Linked DNA regions of Homo sapiens: regions 2, 3 and 4 are each reported to be linked to region 1. The links are microRNA targets in miRTarBase. Many come from high-throughput screens and were not tested one by one. Region 1 holds a microRNA gene; each other region holds the end of a gene's coding sequence.
What was found. Region 1 holds the annotated microRNA hsa-miR-6758-5p (UAGAGAGGGGAAGGAUGUGAUGU, at 2,837-2,859, opposite strand). A microRNA usually pairs through its seed, bases 2 to 8, with sites in the 3' UTR of a target mRNA and lowers its output. Matches are read on the target gene's strand: a 7mer-m8 pairs with bases 2 to 8, a 7mer-A1 pairs with bases 2 to 7 and ends in A, and an 8mer does both.

Region 1 (5,000 bases):
AGTTTTGTGTGCCAGGTTCTGGTTTCTGGCATGAAGAACAATGAAGATGTACAGATAATTCCGGACTTGTGAACGACTACCAAGGACTTTATATCAGAAACTTAGGAGTCCCATGACCAAAGTAACACTGGAGAGATGTTAGGTCTTCTCTCACCCACTCCAAAAGCTGCATGGCAAGAGTATCAATTTTAAGAGAGGCTGGCTCTTCCACCTACTGTGCCAATCTGGTGTCCTGCTGGTAAGGTACACAGGAAGTTTGTCAGCAGGATACTGCAGGCTGGAGGTGGGAGCTGCAGCTGGGCCTGGATTGTGGCACTAACCGTGGGCATGTAAGGCTGAAGCATGACAGAGAGCAAGGCAGCTATATTCACTGCCAAGCCAGTCACTGTTCCTGCCCGTTGCCTGAGGAAGAGGAGACATTAGTCAAGACCTCCAGGAGGATACAGCTTACAAGCCACTTTATGCCTTTAGCCAACCCTCCCCGCTTACCTACCTGTCAGCCTCACTGCCTTTAATCCGCTTCCAGGGCTCATTCACCTGAATATATTGGTTGCCATGTCGAGATATGGTGAGGATACTGCGCAAGGCATCCCGGATCCTGGGAAGGGAGGAAGCAGGCCAAGGTGTAATGTCCTACAGAGACCAATACAAGGAGGCTCTCAACATGCCAGCAGAAAAGACAGAGGTGTCAGTTACTTACCGAACCTTCTCAAGTAGCTGGTGATAGTGCTGGAGCTCCAGGGTGACATGGGCCAGCAGGCGCTGATCATCAGGGGTGAGCACCATCTCAGGCACATAGCCCCCAAAGAACTTAGACACAAACATCCCAGCTCTTGGTTGGGAGTAGGAAAGCAGAAGTGGAAAAAAGAGGGGAAGTTATTATCCCGTCTCCTTGTTAGAATTTCACCCAATTTCCACAGCTGTACATTCTCTCAGGATTCCTGCCTGGAACAGGTAACTCCTGGCTCCCTCAAGCTAGTAGACAAGGCCTAATTATTTACTCTTTCTCTCCCCTAAGAATCTGACTCTGCACATAAGAAACCTGATTAAGTTAAACAACTGTACCTCTTATTTTTAAGAAGTCATTACTCGGCCGGGCGCAGTGGCTCACGCCTAAAATCCCAGCACTCTGGGAGGCCGAGGTGGGCAGATCACCTGAGGTCAGAAGTTCAAGACCAGCCTGGCCTGGCCATGGTGAAACCTCGTCTCTACTAAAAATGCAAAAAATTAGCCGGGCGTGGTGGTGTGCACCTGTAATCCCAGCTACTCTGGAGGCTGAGGCAGGAGAATTGCTTGAACCCGGGAGGCGGAGGTTGCAGTGAGCCAAGATCGCGCCACTGCACTCCAGCCTGGGCAACAAGAGAGAAACTCCATCTCAAAAAAAAAAAAAAAAAGTCATTACTCAAAATGACCAAGCTGAGTATGTGTTAACTGCTATCAAACAAACACTCTAGGCAAGTACTTTTTTTTTTTTTTAATTTTTTTTTTTTTTGAGGATTCTCACTCTGTTGCCCAGGCTGGAGCACAGTGGCATGATCTTGGCTCACTGCAACCTTTGCCTCCCGGGTTCAAGTGATTCTCCTGCCTCAACCTCTTGAGTAGCTGGGATTACAGATGTGCGCCACCACGCCCGGCTACTTTTTGTATTTTTAGTGGAGACGGGGTTTCACCAGGTTGGCCAGGCTGGTCTCGAACTCCTGTAGGTAAGGACTATTTATTAAATGTGGTTAATTACCAAAGCTGAAAGTGAGTAGCAGGACTGACCTATAAGGGTCCAGGGCTCAGAGAGTGTGACTAAAGAATCCTAAATTCTGGAGAATACTGCTTTAGATTGCAGAAGAGCTGAGATAGGCACCAATGATAGAATGTGAGCCTAAGGTAACAAAAACTCTGAACTCTGAAGAGTATAGCAGAAGCCTTTTTTTTTTTTTTTTTTTGAGACAGGATCTCCCTCTTTTGCCAAGGCTGGAGTGTAGGGGTACGAGTACTGCTCCACTGCAGCCTCAATCTCCCAAGTTCAAGAGACCATCCCGCCTCAGCATCCTGAGTGGCTGGGACTACAGGTGTGCGCCACCACGCCTGGCTGATTCTTTTTGTAGAGATGGGAGATTCATTATGTTGGTCAGGCAAGTCTTGAACTCCCGGCCTCAAGTGATCCTCCTGCCTCAGCCTCCCAAAGTGCTGGGATTACAAATGTAAGCCACCATGCCCAGCCCACAGAAGCCTCCTACCCCCACACCAAAATAACCCCTTTCTTCAGCCAAACTTTTCAATGATCTGCAGGTGAACTATTTTGCTGGGAGAGAATACATCTTCAATTCTACAAAGAACAGTAATAAGGAAACAATTTACAAAAACCCACTTTATAACCAACTTTGCTAAATCACATCTCTACAGCTAACTGTTCCATCAAGCACACATAGCCTAGTATGTGCTAGGAACAGATCCCAATTAATAGAAATCAACTTTCCACAGTGTCCTCACAGCCTCCTGCCCATTTTCTAGTTCTCTCCACATTCCCATCTCCTGAGGGAAAATGAGCCCCACCCCAGCTCACTGCTAACTCTGACCCCTTACCAAGTCCTACCTGTTGATGAAGTTGCCCAGGTTGTTAAGCAGCTCAGAATTATTCTTCAGCAGCAGGTCCGTCCAGGAGAAAGCACTGTCCTGGCCCTCAGGCCGAATGTACAGCAGATAGAAGCGCCAGATGTCAGCAGGGATCCCCGTGTCCTGGGCCATGTCCCCAAACACTCCCACACCGCGGCTCTTAGAGAATTTCCCATCCTCATAGTTCAGGTACTCTGGACAGAGGAGAATGAGTGAGAACCATCTGCTCACATCACATCCTTCCCCTCTCTAGCCCACTAACTCTTCCTTCTTTCCTCTTTCTAACCTCAACTATGGGTGTCTAGCAACATTTCTCCTTAAGGGGCTGGTATGCTCAGATTTTGGGAGTCCCTTCCTATCCATTCTGGCCCTTTTTTCTCTTTGCTTATATCTACTAAAGAGTTTTAGCTTTAGACTTTTGCTTTCTTCAGGTTCTTGTTCGTTTCTCTAGGTTGAGTTCTCATTTTAATTATTTCCTATTTCAGCTCAACTCCTAACTCAAGATAGCAGCTCTCCAAGATCTTTTTCCAAGTACTGCCTCACCCCTCATTTCCTATGAACACCCCATCAGTAGTCTTCCAGGGTACTTACCTGTAGCAATGAGGTGGCTGACCAAGGTATAGTTATCCTCAGCTCCTAGGGCTGAGCAAGGAAAGACTAAGCTATGGAAAGGAACATTGTCTTTGGCCATGAACTGATACAGGTCCACCTAGGGGAATGTGGTTAGGAGAGATTTCCTGAGACCTCCTTCAAAGGCCCAAGGAAGACCAGACACCCAACCCTAACACCCACACCCTACCGCCTACCCTCCCCATGCACAGCCTAACCAAGAACTGCTCACTTGCTCTGGGTTCTTCCACCATCTCTCCCACTGGTCTGTGTAGTTGGCTGTGATGGACAGATAGCCAATAGTGGCATCAAACCAGACATAGAATACCTGGAGGTCAGAAGGAGGTAAACATGTTAGGGACCAATCCAAAGTCTCAAACTGAAACAAGACATAATCAGCAGTCTACTCTGCTAGCCCAGGGTTTCAACACTAAGGCTGAATGATATGAATAAAAAAGGGTTTTTACCTTGTCTTCAAAACCTTCTAAGGGTACAGGGGTTCCCCATTTGAGGTCTCGGGTTATGCAGCGTGGCTTGAGGCCATCCCGAAGCCAAGAACGGGTGATAAACTGGGCATTGGGTGTCCAGTCACTGCCAGGCAATGTCCTCCCCAACCACTCCTCCAGTCGCTTCTCCAGCTGAGATAACGGAGAAAGAGGGCTGATTTAGGAAAGTCTCATATATGGTTAGCATAAGGATAAACACATATAACCTTTTTGGAGCACAATTTGGCAATATATAACTTTTTTTTTGGAGACAGAGTCTTGCTCTGTTGCCCAGACTAGAGTGCAGTGGTGCAATCATAATCACAGCTCACTGCAGCCTAAACCTCCTGGGCTCAAGCAATCCTCCTACCTCAACCTCCCCAGTAGCTGGGACCACAGGTGCACACCACCATGCCAGACTGTAATTTTTGTAGAAACAGGGTTTTGCCACATTGCCCAGGCTGGTCTTGAACTCCTGAGCTCAAGCAATCTGCCCACCTCAGCCTCCAAAAGCGCTGAGACTACAGTTGTGAGCCACCCTGCCCAGCCTTAACTAGATTTTTAACACACAGCCAGGGGCAGTGGCTTGCGCCTGTAATCCCAGCTACTCCGAAGGCTGACGCAGGAGGATCACTTGAGGGCAGGAGTTCATGACCATCCTGGGCAACACAGCAAAATCCTGTCCCTAAAAAAAATTTTTTTTTTTTTAATTTTTAAAAATATGGAACACTTCACAAGTTTGCATGTCATTCTTGTGCAGAGGATGTGCTAATCTTGTCCATATCAGGGTCTCACTGTCACCCAGGCTGGAGTACAGTGGCACATCATGGCTCACTGCAGCCTCAACCTCCCAGGCTTAAGTGATCCTTCCACCTCAGCCTCCTGAGTAGCTGGCACTACAGGCACGTGCCACCACACCTGGTTAATTTTTGTATTTTTAGTAGAGATGGGTTTCACCAAGTTGCCCACCCTGGTCTCAAACTCCTGGGGTCAAGCAATTCTCCCGCCTCAGCCTCCCAAAGTGTTGGAAGTTGGAATTACAGGCATAAGCCACCGTGCCCAACCAATTTTTTCTTTTTTTAAATACAGACAGGGTCTTGCTTTGTTGCCCAGGCTACTCTCAAACTCCTGGCTTCCAGCGATCCTCCTGCCTCAGCCTCCCAAAGTGCTGGAATTACAGGCATGAACCACCATGGCCAGCTGAGGAAGTGCAAAAAAGAAAAAAAAAATTTTCTTTTTTTTTTTTAAGGTAGGGTGTCACTCTGTTGCCCAGGCTGGTCTTAAACTCCAAGGCTCAAG
Region 2 (5,263 bases), not on the chromosome of region 1:
TAAAAGTTAGGTGCTCTTTGTATGCGAGGATTGGGATTGTTAGGGGCCTGTGTTCGTGATGATCACTATCATGGAGTCATTTCTTGTTGGGAATTGTTAGAGGGTAAGATCAGAGATAGGTACTTAGTTCAAGAAGACTCTCTGAAGCTCCCAAACTGTAGATATGTCCTGTGTGCGAACTGGCTGGCTTTACAGAAGTCCTGATGGAAGTGGGTTTATTGTTTTTTGACTCGTTACCAACCCTCTGCTTACTCCTTCCCCTCAAAAAAGGGAAGCTGACTTCTCAGGTTAGCCAGCAGCTCACTCATACTTTTTTCTCTCTCTATTCCATTGGCTGATCTGCTGACTTGGGGCTCTGAATCTGGATACTCTCCATCACCGGTTGGCTGCTGTCACCATTTCCTTCCTCGTTGATGGCACTACTAGTGGTCAAGCAGAGGATGCAGATGTACAACTCACCATACCACCGGGTGACAGACTGTGTACGGGCAGTGTGGCAAAATGAAGGGGCCGGGGCCTTTTACCGCAGCTACACCACCCAGCTGACCATGAACGTTCCTTTCCAAGCCATTCACTTCATGACCTATGAATTCCTGCAGGAGCACTTTAACCCCCAGAGACGGTACAACCCAAGCTCCCACGTCCTCTCTGGAGCTTGCGCAGGAGCTGTAGCTGCCGCAGCCACAACCCCACTGGACGTTTGCAAAACACTGCTCAACACCCAGGAGTCCTTGGCTTTGAACTCACACATTACAGGACATATCACAGGCATGGCTAGTGCCTTCAGGACGGTATATCAAGTAGGTGGGGTGACCGCCTATTTCCGAGGGGTGCAGGCCAGAGTAATTTACCAGATCCCCTCCACAGCCATCGCATGGTCTGTGTATGAGTTCTTCAAATACCTAATCACTAAAAGGCAAGAAGAGTGGAGGGCTGGCAAGTGAAGTAGCACTGAACGAAGCCAGGGGTTCAGATGACACTGCTGCATCCTGGTCACATTCTCTGTCTCCTGGAATGCTCCCACCTCAAGTGGAGTTAGAAGGAAGGTAGAGGGGCTCTCCCCCAGGATTTTGGTGTTTTGACTAACACCAGTTCCTGCCAACCTCTGTTGCCACCACCTTTCCTTCCAGGCCCTAAGCACGTGCAGCAAAGCACACCACAGCACCTTTGATAACCTCTCTCCATCCTGGGCCTGATGACCTGCTCTAGACTGTTATAGAGGGATAAGCAGCTCATTCCCCTGGTTCCTAATAAAAAGCCTTTAAATTAAATGGTTTCATTGGGTTTGTCTTGCTAAAGGGGAAGTGAAATGCTGTTAACTGTTCTTGACTTTCCTTTAAGCATAAATCAAGGGACCCAAAGGAAAGGTTTATTGAGTATGTCTGTAGTTTTCTGCTGATTTTCATGACAATTTAAGACATTAGTGGTAGGCCCCAAGCAATCTCCCTGATGGCTAGAACAACAAGCCCTTGACAGATCCCAACCAATCAGATGCTCCAGATCCCCACTGTCTTCCCTAGGGCGGTAGCGCAGCACAGAAGGGGCAGATCTCTGCTCTAATTCGCAGCTCTGCCTGCAGCAGTGCTTTACAGTGTGGCACTTGGTTTTCCATTTTAGTTGTGAAACTCAAATTATTCAGTGAAGCTGCAAGTCCTGAAGATTACATGGTAAATAATACATTTCATTTTATTTTAAGGCTTTCACAGAGTACTTGAGCATGTGTGATCTCATTTGAACCTCACAAAATCTCTGAAGTAGGCAGTGCAGGTGTCATTTGTATTTCACAAGCAAGAAAGCTCAGAGGCTGTGACTAGTCCAAAGTCTCACAGTCAGTGCAGAAGTGGGACCCCAGCCCAAGTGTTTTGACCTCACGAATGAATCTAAGCGTGGCTTCCTACAGATGGGAAATGAGTGGAGGGCATCTCACATCTACTGCCATCTACTGAGGAAGCTCCCTGCCTGATGACCAGTTAGGCTCTGCTTGGAGACTTTTCAGAGATGGGGCTTTCCCTGTGCTTGGTGGGTCAGTGTGTTCCTTTTTTTTTTTTTTTTTTTTTTTTTTTTTTTTATATATCACCAGTTATTAGCAAGTTCTTCAGTACATAGAAATGTACCCCTCTGAGTCTTCCACCTATCCTTGTTAGGTCATCTGTCATTCATTCATTAACTATTGAGTGTCTCTGTGGCAAGCACTGGTGTTGGAAATACAATGATAGATAAAAACAATCCCAGCCCTCAAGGAGCTTACTGTCTGGAGAGGAAGATACATGGAAACAGGCAATTACAAAACAAAATGACAGGAGAGAAGATAGAATAAACCTAGGATACTCAGAAGACAGAAGGATACCCAGCGTAGCCTTGGGTGACCAGGGTAGACATTTGGAGGAAGTAACATCTGAGGTGACACCTGGAAGGCAAATGAGCTAACTTGGTGAAGAGGGGAGGGGTTATGTTCTAGGCAAAGACCTGGAGGTAAGAGAATTAAAAAGTATTTGGGATTTGGTGTGCAAGTGGTTTGGTAGGACTGAAACAATCTGGGCAAGACATGCAGCCTGAGAGCCAAGCAGACACTGGGTCTTCAAAGCGATGCTATGGAGTTTAGATTTATCCTGAAGGCCATGCAAAAGCATTACGGAGTTTTAAGCAGAGGTGTGGTGTGATCAGATTTACAATTTAAACAGATCACTTAGGCTCTCTGGAGAAAGGATTAGAGGAGCAAGACTGGACAGGCAGGCCAACTGGTTAGGAGGCTGCTGTGGTAATCCAGGCAAGTGCATGGTGGTCTGAAGCAGGACTGTGGCATGGAGCCGGGAGCCATGTTAGGGTTGTAGAAGCAATAGGATTCGGTCACAGAGTAGATCTCGTCCTCCTCCCATCTGACAGCCCTTCAATATCTATGGAGAATCATGTCTGAATGCACTTGAAAAAAAACTGTCGAGAAACCAGCAGGGTCTCCTAAGCTTTATTTAAGTAGGCTATGCTGCCCCTCTGATTTAGCGTGGAGAGGAGAGATTAATAGTGCTAAGCGGTGGTTGCTGAGTAAAAAGAGTGTGATGATATCATTGTAAAGGTCATTTCAGAGGGTTTGCTAGTAAAAATGTAATTGAGTAGCTGCCTCCCATATGGACTGAGCAAGAGAGCAAAGGGATGGCTGTCAGGACCTAGTCTCTGCGGTCGGCTTTACAGAGCTGTCTGGCATGGTATCTGACACACAGTAGGCACAATGGCAATAAGGCTTATTTTTCAAGAATGGATTGCGGGGTAATTTCTTAAAGATTGGTAGCGGCTAGAGACCACCTCAGCTCTAATGCTGTTCACAAATAATGAGAAAAGAATACAAAAGTGATCTTCCAGCCTCCAGTTGTGCTGTAGCTACTGGAGGACATTTAGTTTGGAATCTGGACAGGACACTAGGTTCTGCAGGTCTCTTGGCCCAGTCACTAGAGGTCAAAGGGGAGATAGAGGCAGAATAATGTGACAGGTTGAACATTAGCAATGCCAGTGACTGGATACCTGGGTCATTTCCAAGGGGCTCAGCAGACCCAGGAGAACTGTGGGTGTTTGGGGGCATCCCCAGGTCCAGAGCCTCTGTGGAGAGCCAGGTAGTTCATGTGACACCTGGAGAATCCAGTACCAAGCCATCATCAAGTGGCCAATTCCTGCACAGTGCTATGTGTCAGGGAAAATGAGAAAATAAGTCACAATTTGGCCAGAGGAAAATGTTCTTCATTGGAGAGCTGAGACCAACATGAGTGAAACAAACTTTTAATAACACAAGACACTATATAGACATGTACTGGATTATACAGAAATTAACAATGAGATTTAGAGACAGGAAAGATAAGTGTAGGCAGAGTAAACAGAGAAGAAGGTGGCTTTGATGAATAGAATTAAAAAATACTTTCGTAAAAGCCAATAAATGTTGAATCATGCTAATTTCATAAAATTTAGAAAGCACAGATAAAAAGAAAATACTTCGAATCCCATTACCCAGAGAACTTGACCTTCTAACAGACAGAGCTTTGCAGCAATGACACGGATAGCATTGCACAGCAGCGAGCTCTAAAATACAGGAGCTGGGGCTGGTCAGCCCTGCCAGGGATGCTATACAGTGAAGTCGAACTCCTGGAGGGTTGCAAAGCAAGATGACCTCTAAGAAGCCTCCTAGATCTAGATGTTCTCAGGGCCAGCCTCAGCCCCACTATCCGGTAACCTGCGTCCTGGTCTCCAGGCCGGATATCTTCAATGCCTGTCAGGAGATGGTGCCAGACTGTCTCACCACTCTGAACTTTCTCTCTCCACCAACCTATCTATCCTCCTTTTGATCATTCAGATTCTACCTACCCATAGCAATGTTTCTGATATTATAAAGGTGCCACAGGGGGCCGGGCATGGTGGCTCGAGCCTGTAATCCCAGCACTTTGAGAGGCCAAGGCAGGCAGATCACTTGAGCCCAGGAGTTCGAGACCAGCCTGGCCAATATAGTGAAACCCCATTTCTACTAAAAATACAAAAATTAGCCAGGGTGGTGGCATGCACCTGTAGTCCCAGCTACTCGGGAGGCTGAGGCACAAGAATCACTTGAACCTAGGAGGCAAAGGTTGTAGTGAGCCAAGATGGTGCCACTGCACTCCAGCCTGGGTGACAGATCAAGACTCTGTCTCAAAAAAAAAAAAAAAAAAGTGCCACAGGGGACTTATTGAATAAGCTATTGATATTATTGAACATTCATACAATGAAATGTGGCATGCCATTTATACTGAGATGATGGAAGAAAATTTAATGATGCGGAAAGATAGACACTGTATTCTGTTATGTGAAAGAAATTGGTTATAGTGAGATCTCATTTTTGAAAATTACAAAAAAATTATACATAGAAAAAATACTTAATGATATATACATCAACCTACTGGATGTGCAGTATTTTGTTATTTCCTGGAATCTTAGACTGGTAAGTGGAGAACAAGTTCTGTTGGAGTCACACACAGTATTCCCTTTATTGCCACCACCGCCACCACCACCTCTGCCACCCTAAGTAGAATGGAAAATGTTTACACTTCGAGGCACTTAAATCTTTCTGTAATTTCCACCTGTGATAGTACCTTCTGCTTGCTGGGGCAGCACAGAATCAGACTAATCCTTCTCTCTGACAGCCCTTCAAAAATATTAAGACAGCTGTCATATCACCCTGGGAGGGGTCAGAGCATGGAGATCCTGAAAGCTAGGCAAAAGAGTTTAGACTTGCCTTGGCAGCTAATGAGGA
Region 3 (5,000 bases), not on the chromosome of region 1:
AACAAATGTTTTATTTTCTGTTTGTCACACGGATGCCATCTAAATTTTAAAAGAAATCTAGGCTTCCTCTTATTCTTTATGTTTTTTTTAAAAGCAAGAAGTCAGAGACTTTGTACATCATGATTAACTTCTACATTTGTTTGAGCTATGTGTCACAAGTAATTAAGTTATAAATATTCTGAAGATTAATTGGTGCACACTCTAAGTGCTTTTTAAATTTTACACAGCTTACCTTTCTTTCTGAAGAATGTCCTCACAAAGATAGATTATATCAATTTCTCCACTGATGATGTATTCCAGCAATAAACATAGTCCTAGAATTGTAGAATGTGCACTGCTGCACTCTGTCCTAACAGACAGTAGACAAGGTTTATAATTTTTTTCTATGGGACACTAAAAATACCCTAGGATTTCCTTTAACTTTTTGCACTGACAGGTCTAAAGCAAAGCCACAGAAGCTGCTCTTGCTCAGTAAGTATTGTTAATGCTGCAGTGCATATTAAAATTTCAGAAAACCCAATTATGTACTATCTAGGTGTGGATAGCTCTCATTGTTAGTATCCTAAATCATCTAAAGGCTTGTTTTCTTTCTTTTTTTTTTTTTTACAGACCTAACTACCATAATGAATGCTGCATATTAAGAGAAACCACAAGAAGGTTATATGTTTGGTTGTCTAATATTCTTGGATTTGATATGAACCAACACATAGTCCTTGTTGTCATTGACAGAACCCCAGTTTGTATGTACATTATTCATATTCCTCTCTGTTGTGTTTCGGGGGGAAAAGACATTTTAGCCTTTTTTAAAAGTTACTGATTTAATTTCATGTTATTTGGTTGCATGAAGTTGCCCTTAACCACTAAGGATTATCAAGATTTTTGCGCAGACTTATACATGTCTAGGATCCTTTTATCAAGGCAGTTATGATCATCGTTTTCCTGCCTTGACCCCACCATCATCAAACACTCAGTTAAATATAAATTAACATTTTTTAGATGACCACTCAACATAATGCTTAAGAATGGAATTTCCTCTCTGTGACAGAACCCAGGAATTAATTCCTAAATACATAACGTTGGTATATTGAAGACGAAATTAAAATTGTCCTTCAGTTTTGAGGCCATGTGTAAAGTTTAACCATATTGTAAAATATCTATTCCGTATTAGAAATAGCTAGTTGACAGCTTATACTTCTCAAAATTCATATTGTTATGTACACAAACTAAGTTTCTATATGTGAAGTTAGTGAGTCTTTTTGTGTTACTCCAAAATAAAGGCAATGATTTATTTTTTTCCCAGTGCCAATACAATTTTGAGCTAAGCACTCAAGGTGGATACTTTACATTTTAAAGCTGGAATCAGCAACAGCCCTATGGGAAACCAGACAAAGCATTGACTTTTAAATGTAGACTTTTAAAATAAACTGTTTTCTTTTGGAACTACAATTAGAATAGTTAATATTCATCCTTAAACCATTATTATGTGTACATTATTGTTGCTATTGTGATAATAGAGAATTTTATTTATTTTTATGCCAGCTTATATTGTGAGAACACATTTAGTCAGTTTGGGTTTTATCAATCCTGTTAATGCTTGTCCTTGGAACATCTTTCGCGTATTCACGGTTTGTAGTTGAAAAGTTTACTGTAAAAAAATCAAAAACAAAAAAATGTATTGTTTTTACAGAATAAATTTATTGGAATGTGTACTGGGAGTAAGATTTGAGGTTGTAAGCAAACTAAGTTAGTGTAATTTGGCTTCATATATGTAACGTGAGGTATTAATGTAATTCATATATTAAAGCAAAAATTGTTCACAGCAAGCTGACAATAGAATCAAGTGCAGGTGAGGGTTTTTCTTTTTCTTTCTTTTTTTTTTTTTAAACACTCTCTGGGTTTTAGATTATTTGAAAACACTGTAGGGGATGATGGGGAGATGACTACATGATTTGCTTACACTTACATATTTACCAGCCCAGTGGACCCTAGATTTTGTAATTTGATATTATCCATGCATTGATTTGTATCCCATTTTCTTTTGGTTTTCTTGATGAGAGCTAATAAAAACATGAGAAAATGTGAGCAGACCTAAAAGCCTAGGGCCGTTAATAATGATGATGGTGATGATGGCAGCTAAGGGTATGAAAGCACCAGTCCATTTATCATTCCAGGGCACAGTGAGGAGGTGGCTGTTTGTATTTTTGGTGTGTTTCTTTCATTTAGTGAATACTGATTTTCTCTAGTATACTCAACATACAATCCCAAACATGAAAAGTTCATAAAAAGATAGTAGGGATGTCGATCTAATACTTCTTCCTTAAAAGGTCCTTTTTAATTTTGAATATTTGAATGTATTTTTTAATTAATGAAATTTAATTCATCAAAAGACCTCTTCATTGCTCACACTGAAACATAAGGGGAATGTAGATGGCATTTTGAATTGGAATATACAACTCACAAATTTTCTTTAAAAGCGTTTTATGTGTATATATGAAATGTTTCAAATTTAATAAGATTTGTCTTTATAAGAGGCCAAAAATAATTTTATTAAAAATATACACAGAAATACAATAGAAATATTTCCAGCCACCAATAAAACAAATGTTCATTAAGGATAGAGATAAAGTTACTGATCCCTATTTAGCTGTTTAAATTCACACAAAAAAATTTAGTAAAAGTAATTTTCTTGAAACAGCAGCAAATAATAAACTTTCCTTGGGAAAACATTTTTCAAACAACATTTAAAAATATTCTGATGATTTGCCTTTTATATTGAGTTTAATAATGAAGCATATTCATCTTATTTGCAAAAGTTACTCCTCCAGTCTGCATTCACTGTTTTGAATTTTTTAATATGCACAGGCCATATTCTCTTTTGAATAGTTTCATTTCATGCTCACTACTGTTGGCACTAAATTGTAATTTTTTACACTTATAATTATTTTATATGTCAAACAATATTGAGATGGATGATCAAGTTTATTCACAAATGATTTTGAATATATTTCTTTAAACAAACTGTTTCTCAAGAATTTCCATTTTCCTTCAAAAAAAATTTACACAATACCATATAGCTCACACATACAGTGCAGAGCAAGAATGTACATATTCTTAAGTACTCACGTATGAGAAGAGAGTGAAATGGGACAAAATATCAGTACCAGTATAACAAAAGTTAGTAATTTAGAAAGGAGGAACATGAAGTAATATTTTTATTCCACTTTTTCTTCTGCCTTTGTTTTTATGAAGAACTCTGGTTTGTAGATACAACGATAGGCCAAGAGCTGAGGAAGAACTCCATATGCTATGTTTAATGCTAAAAAAAGGATTTTTGCTTCTTCAGGGACTCTGTAGACATAAGCAGTTCTAGCATGAAGAGATGCACCAATGTGAGAAAACTGAGCCTGTTGCATTTAAAAAAAAAAAATTGAGTAAGCATGAAACGTGTTCAGTTGGATGCATGATGAGTTCTGAATGGTTCATTCAGGCTACGTTTCTGTGCCCTCAAAACCAGTCTCACCTGCAGGCAAAATACCTTCAAACAATCCAGAGTCTTTAATGTCAGAGTCTTTCATTAAATTTAGTCCTTGATTAAATTTAGGGCCATTCTTGATATGACTGTTCAAATAAAGTAGATATTATTTAGTGTAGTTTTATCATGCCAGTTGTGTTTTTTAACCATCAAGTGCCCCTTACCGAACATTAGTGGCTCAATCTAATAGAAAAATCTGAATAAAATCTCAAATTTTTTTCTGATTTGCGTTCTGGAGATCCTGCATACAGACTCAGTTGTGGTTCACAAATTGCGTTCCAATAAAAATGAAGAAAGCGCAGAGTTTTAAAAAACAAATATTTTTAGCATAAACTATTGAAAGGGAAGCACTGGGGGGACCTCAGCTTCATTTATCAGTCTTTCATCTACTCCTTGCAGCAAGAGCTCATACCCTTTCCCTATGTGTTTTTTGTTTATTCATTTATTCATGTATTTGTTTTTTCTGCAGCTTTTAAAATATTAAGGGTTGTTTGTAAGATAAGGTTGTTACCAACTTGGGTGGAGGTAGGAGTACGGTTGCTCTTTGTAAAATGGCAAATGTACATGCAGGCAACCTTTTTAAATCAAATTATAATTTATTTAGAAGTACGACATGTCAGCATTATCCGCATTTGCAAAATGGCCTCCCTCTCTACTTATATACTTATTCAGAAAACACATTCAGAATGTGCCAATTGGTCTTTTTTGATATTTTTCGCAAGCACAGAGGAAAACCGTATTGGAAAGGGTAAAACAGACCACAGCAGGATTAAAAGCTCCTGTCAGAAAATTTCCTCAGAAGGCTTGTATCATTACAAAATGTACCCCTGGAGTCTGCATTTTCATATCTTGCTGAAATTCAAGATACACATGAATAAAGGATTGGGAATCTAAATGTAATAAGTAGTAAATTATCAGTTCATCAGGATCAAAGAGACAAAAGACTGCACTATAGAGAAGGCATAGAAGTAACAAGAATGAAGAACTAGATAATTTGCTTTAAATACATATAAGTTATTTTACATTTCTTCCATATGAAACCAATTTATTCTGCTGAGTGATTTCACAGATAAAGGTGTTACTTACTTGACTTCACCATGACAAGAAAAGGACAAGTTTTTTTAAGCAGCATCTTTATGAATTTTTTATCAGTGGCAGATATTTTAATGGGCTGCATTTTTACAAATTCCTGATATATTCTGGAGACCTGTGGTACATTTTTGCTACTCTGGAGATATAAATTAAATTAGCATGATGTATTGCCAAGGACCAGCACGTGGATTGTCTACATTGTGATCCATGAGGCACTGAGAGGACTCGGCCCTCAGATACAACTCCCCTGGGTAGATGCCCAGGCAGAACCCAGCAAATGTATATGCATCTCTGGGCTCTGAGGACAAAATGCCTTGAGAGTAAAGGGCACTTTCAGGGCTGCCCTGAGGAGGTGCTTTCTGGACATTCTAGGAAC
Region 4 (5,263 bases), not on the chromosome of region 1:
GCATGTATATTAACTCGTTTTTTAATATTATAATTCAGCAATATGTACTGGTATTTAAGAAAGAGACATAACAAAGAATGTATCAAAACATCACTAGTGGCCAGGCGCAGTGGCTGACACCTGTAATCCCAGCACTTTGGGAGGCCAAAGCAGGTGGATCACCTGAGGTCAGGAGTTTGAGACCAGTCTGGCCAACATGGCGAAACCTTGTCTCTATTAAAAATACAAAAATTAGCTGGGTGTGGTGATGCGTGCCTAAAATCCCAGCTGCTTGGGAGGCTGAGGCCGGAGAATCGCTTGAACCCAGGAGGTGGAGGTTGCAGCGAGCCAAGATCGCGCCACTGGACTCCAGCCTGGGCGACAGAAAAAGATTTCATCGAAAAAAAAAAAAAATCACTAGTTTAGATTAACACAGAGGAAAGATCAGACTAAATGGTACTTTCTTAAAATGAGCTGCTAAGTTGTATATGTTTACGGTGTACAAAAGGATGTCTTGAGGTATATATACGTTGTGAAGTGGCTAAGTCAAGATATTTAACATACACCTTACCTCACATACTTATCATTTGGTGACACATAGCTACCAAGTTACGAGAACACTTAAAATCTTCTCTCTGCAATTTTCAAATACACAACATTGTTATCAACTGTAGTAAGCATGATATACAATAGATCCCTTGAACTTACTCTAACCGAAATGCTGTGAACTTTGACCAACATCTCCCCAACCTCACCCCATTCCACCCCAGCCTCTGGTAACCACCATGTTACTCTGAGTTGGATTTTTTTAGACTCCACATATGAGATCATGTGATACTTGTCTTTTTGTGCCTGGCTTATTTCACTCAGGATAGTGTTCCCCAGGTTCACTCATGTTGTCACAAATGACAGGATTTTTTTTTTTTTTTTTTTTTTTGAGATGGAGTTTTGCTCCATGGCCCAGGCTGGAGTGCAGTGGCGTGATCTCAGCTCACTGCAACCTCCACATCCCAGGTTCAAGTGATTCTCCTGCCTCAGCCTCCCAAGTAGCTGGGATTACAGGCACCTACCACCATATCTGGCTAATTTTTGTATTTTAAGTAGAGACGGGGTTTCAGGTTTCACCATGTTGAGCAGGCTGGTCTCGAACTCCTGACCTCAAGTGATCCACTCACCTCGGCCTCCCAAAGTGCTGGGATTACAGGCGTGAGCCATTGCGCCTGGCCAGGATTTCCTTTTTAAAGGCTGAATAGTATCCCATTGTATACAGACCACATTTTCTTTATCCATTCATCCACTGATGAACACACTGATCCCATGTCTTGGCTACTGTGAATAATGCTGCAGTGAACATGGGGTGCAGACACCTCTCTGACACACGGATTCCATTTCCTTTGCATGTGTACCCAGGAGTGGGATGGCTGGATCATACACAGTCCTATTTTTGGTTTTCTGAGGACCCCCCACCCCAGTGTTTTCCAGAACGTGTATACTAACCGACAATACCACCAACAGGGTGCGAGGGTTTCCTGTCTCCACATCCTCGCCAGCACTTCTCTTCTGTCTCTTCCTGCAGCCATCCTAACAGGTGTGAGGTGGTTTCCATTGCCTTTCCCTGGTGATTAGTGATACCGGACATTTCTTTCATATGCCTGTGGGTCATTTGTGTGTGTTCTTTTGAGTTACTTGCTTTTTACTATTGTATTGTTTGGGTTTCCTATGGATTTGGGATACTAACCCCTTATCAGATGGATGGTTTGCAAATGCCGTCTCCTATTCGGTAGGCTCCCTAACTCTGCTGATTGCTCCTTTGCTGTGCTGGGTTCACTCATTTACCATGAGGGCTGAGATGCTGCTGACCAGCAGGAGCTACTGAAATGTGGGTCAGTGCCATTCATGTCATTGCTAAGCGTCCTCCCACAGGCTACAGCAGGCCCAGGGGAACTTGGGAACACACACAGGCACACCCACTCACTCCTGTGTGTCCCCACATCCCAGGGAGAGAATGGCAGAGCCACCCCCACCCCCACCCCCCTCCACCCCACCCCGGTGTACACAGCTCTACACTGGTGTCCAGAAGCCACACAGAGCATTCTTGCACCTAGAGAAGACAACTTCCATACCCTGCTGGGCTGGGAAAGAACCCCCGGGGCCTTCTCTCCTAGTCTGGGGAGAACACCAACCCTAGGGGCGGTGGGGGCTCTGGGTTCCATTCTGCCCACCCCAGCTGACCTCGGAACTACAACCTTGTTCCCCTAACCCTGCAAGCATGGGGGAAGAGGCCTGGAGTCAGTGCTGTCTCTACCCCACCCTCCCCACTGACTCTTTAAATGCCAGCACTCAACCAGGGGTGAGGTGTGTTCAATCAACCAGAGGCCCAAAGGGGTCAGGTGGGGCCCACAGGGGTTAGGGGAGAAAGTGGAGGCTGAGATCCAGGCTCCTTCACAGGCCCCCAATTCCACTTTGCTCTATACTGTTTCCCTAGATGCAGCAATCCTTCATATGTTAGTGAGAATTCGCTGGTTCCGTTGCTTTCTTCAAGGAGGAGCTCAGCCTGACATCCAGTGTAAGAGGGTGAGGCAAAACTGGGGATGCGTGTCTGCAAAAACCCGCCTGCTCTAGAGCTGGAAGTGCCAAGAACAGGTGCTCTCAACTCACTCTGCCTGCCCACCCTTACTCTGAAGGGGCAGGGACCTCAGCCTGTTGTACCAGTTCTAGAACGTCTGTCTGACACTAAAGACATATTAGCAGCCAGGTGCACTCACATTTAGCTGTTTTTAATGCTTAAAAGCTCTGTACAAAAAAAAAAAAAATCACAAATGAATCCTCACAACACCCCTGTGAGGTAGGTAGGCAAGTATTATTCTCCCATTTTACAGATGGGGAAACTGAGGCAGAGAGGTGATGTGATCAGCCAGTGGTCCCAACACAGCTGAAAGTCAGAGCCAACCATGAGAACACAAAGGATCCCTCCCCATTCAGTCCCATCTCTGACTCCGCATCTAGACCTTGTCTGCAAAGAAATTAAAACGTCTTAATTCATGCAAAAATAAAAACAATAAACCTGAAAAGGTAGTGAACAGACACACAGTAGTTCTGCAAAAGAATTCAGCCAAGGGGGTCAAATATTTTCCAATACTGGATAAATGGGAACAACTTCGGCCTCCTCCCCTTTTCAAATATCATGACCAATGACACATCCTTTTTTTTTTTTCCTGCAGAAGTACACGAGCCTAACCAAAGACAGGCTTTCCTGGTCCCAGTGAGCCAAGCAAGGTGGACAGCCTCCTCACTGTTCAGCTCCTGGGTTTCAGCAAGCACCAGTCCCCAGCTGGAAGAGCTGCAAGGCTCAACGCAAACATGGCACTTCTCTGCCACCTGTTCCCAGCAGCCTTCCCGCTGTGTGGAAACAGTGGATCCCAGCAGCCTCTAACTCAGCAGGGTCTGGCCTTTTCTGCTCCCACCGGAAGGCAGGCTCAAAGATGCTCAGCAAGGATGGCCTGGAACCCAGGTGATCCCCTCCCACCACCCTCAGTGCACCCTTGCACACCTCACTGTCCATGAGGACCACCCCAGCAACCACCCTCAGCTAGCACTCCTTGGGGCTCCTGCTGCAGCAGGTGGGGGCACCAGGCCATCCTGGGCTGCCGGGACAGAGAGAGATGCCGGGGGACCTGCAGCTCCAGGCCTTGGCTTCCTCTGTGCCTCCTGCCCAGGTTCCCAGACAAGTGGAGCAGGCCTCTTCCTCTGTGCTGCGTTCGCCCCCTGGAAGCTCTTTCCTCCCCATGAGAGGGGCTCCCTGAAGTCTCCAGCTCCTTGAGAAACCTCCACCATCCTGCCAGCCCCACCAGGCTGGGTAGGTTGTCATTCCTGAAGTCTCCCAGGTCGGAGATGGGGGCATGAGAGTCCAGAAAACTGGGTGAAGCTGCCTTTCACATAATAGATCTATCCAGAACACTGTCCCCTCCACCCACCTCAGGCTGCCAGACGCCCGAGGGCAGTGCTTGGGCAGCAACAAGGGGAGCGGCAATGGCAGAGCAGCAGGAGTAAGGAAGTGGGGAGCTACCAGTGGCCGGGTCTGCTCTGTGCCAGGGGCTGCCAGGCCAATCTGAGAGAGGGGAGAAGAGGACAGAGAGATCCACAGTGTTTGGCAACTGGGGGAGTGAGCCCCTTGGAGGCTGAACGCCGGCCTGTCTGCAAGGTACACACAGCAGTGTGCACCTTGTGAGCACTCCAGTGAGTGCTCCTCCCTGGAGGTCAGCCACACACCTTGGTGGTTTGCAAGGGATGGCTGTGCTGTCTCCCTGTCCTATAAAAAGTTCTTTCTAAAAAGGCTCCCAACTCCGCTCAGTCTCTCCAGGAAGTGGGGGAATCATTTCAAGGCCAGCACCCCTCAGGGCCGCTCCCAGCCAAGAGCACCTCAGACACCCCAGGCCTGCGTGGGGCCCTGTGGGTGGGGGGACAGGGAGTAAGGCCCCCTACAGCAAGTCCTCGGGGGCAGAGGGCTCGAGGCTGCAGCTCTGCTCCTGCCACCGGTAGCGCAGCCTGGAGAAGGGCTGGTCCTCCCCGCTCTCCAGCTCGGGGAAGCCCAGCTCGTTAAGGATCTCGTAGATGCCAGCCTTCGATGCCACCTGGGAGGAGAGCAGAGGCAGGAGCAGTGTTTCAGGGGAGGGAGGGTGCCACTAAGGCCACTGAGTTCTGAAGATGAGTCTGTGGCCTGTGAACTTGGTGACCTGAACAAGTTTGCACCTTGACTTCTGTTAACTTCTCTGAGCGTCAGTTTCCTCATAGCAAGGAAAAGACTCTACCTCACAGGACTGTCTCAAGGAGGACTCTACACATACAGAAAGTACTGGGCAGACAGTGAGTGCTCCACACAGATAGCAGCGAGGGAGGCCAGGCACACACTGGGCCCTGTGCAGCTCGATGCTCCCACGTGGACGCCCAGGAGCAGGGCCTAAAGGGAGGGCTGGAGGAAGAACGTGGATGCAGGGGCAGGTAAGGCTATGGCCTCTGCCCCAGGTGGGCTAGCTGGAGGCACCCCTGGACACTCAGCCCTGCCGCCCAGCAGCCCAGACCCTGGCACCAGACTCAAACCATCCACAACCAGTCCCCTTCTCTCTCCACCATCCTGGGGAAGGGGAGGGTGCAGCCTCCACTTAGAACAAAGGAATGGGTCCGTCCCGCTCTGGGGCCTCCCTCACTGCTACCCTCCACTCATCCGCAGGAGAGAGGGGCTGAGGTCCCGAGGCTGGAACCCACACTTCTGCCTGGACCGGCAGCC

Region 2: miRTarBase lists SLC25A28 as a target of hsa-miR-6758-5p. Seed matches in the 3' UTR shown: 7mer-m8 at 1,175-1,181.
Region 3: miRTarBase lists HDGFL3 as a target of hsa-miR-6758-5p. Seed matches in the 3' UTR shown: 7mer-m8 at 761-767, 7mer-m8 at 1,032-1,038 and 8mer at 4,180-4,187.
Region 4: the mRNA of PALD1 is a reported target of hsa-miR-6758-5p. Seed matches in the 3' UTR shown: 7mer-m8 at 4,091-4,097 and 7mer-m8 at 2,875-2,881.

What each region holds. Positions count from the first base shown.
Region 1 is chr12:57,510,552-57,515,551 of GRCh38, reverse strand. It overlaps MIR6758 (microRNA 6758), which reads right to left and starts at 2,864; the gene lies at 2,802-2,864. It overlaps MARS1 (methionyl-tRNA synthetase 1), which reads right to left. Exons shown (of 21, transcript NM_004990.4): 12 at 3,684-3,854; 13 at 3,449-3,544; 14 at 3,199-3,316; 15 at 2,588-2,801; 16 at 701-832; 17 at 494-598; 18 at 216-402. It also overlaps the pseudogene LOC124903093.
Region 2 is chr10:99,606,530-99,611,792 of GRCh38, reverse strand. It overlaps SLC25A28 (solute carrier family 25 member 28), which reads left to right. Exons shown (of 4, transcript NM_031212.4): 4 at 427-1,271. The coding sequence ends at 944. Among named protein-coding and RNA genes, the nearest start is that of SLC25A28, 11 kb to the left of the region's middle.
Region 3 is chr15:83,134,885-83,139,884 of GRCh38, reverse strand. HDGFL3 (HDGF like 3) reads left to right here. Exons shown (of 6, transcript NM_016073.4): 6 at 610-5,000. The coding sequence ends at 615. It overlaps TM6SF1 (transmembrane 6 superfamily member 1), which reads right to left. Exons shown (of 10, transcript NM_023003.5): 10 at 2,477-3,404. The coding sequence ends at 3,213. Among named protein-coding and RNA genes, the nearest start is that of TM6SF1, 30 kb to the right of the region's middle.
Region 4 is chr10:70,565,928-70,571,190 of GRCh38, reverse strand. PALD1 (phosphatase domain containing paladin 1) reads right to left here. Exons shown (of 20, transcript NM_014431.3): 20 at 2,741-4,610. The coding sequence ends at 4,458. Among named protein-coding and RNA genes, the nearest start is that of PRF1, 34 kb to the left of the region's middle.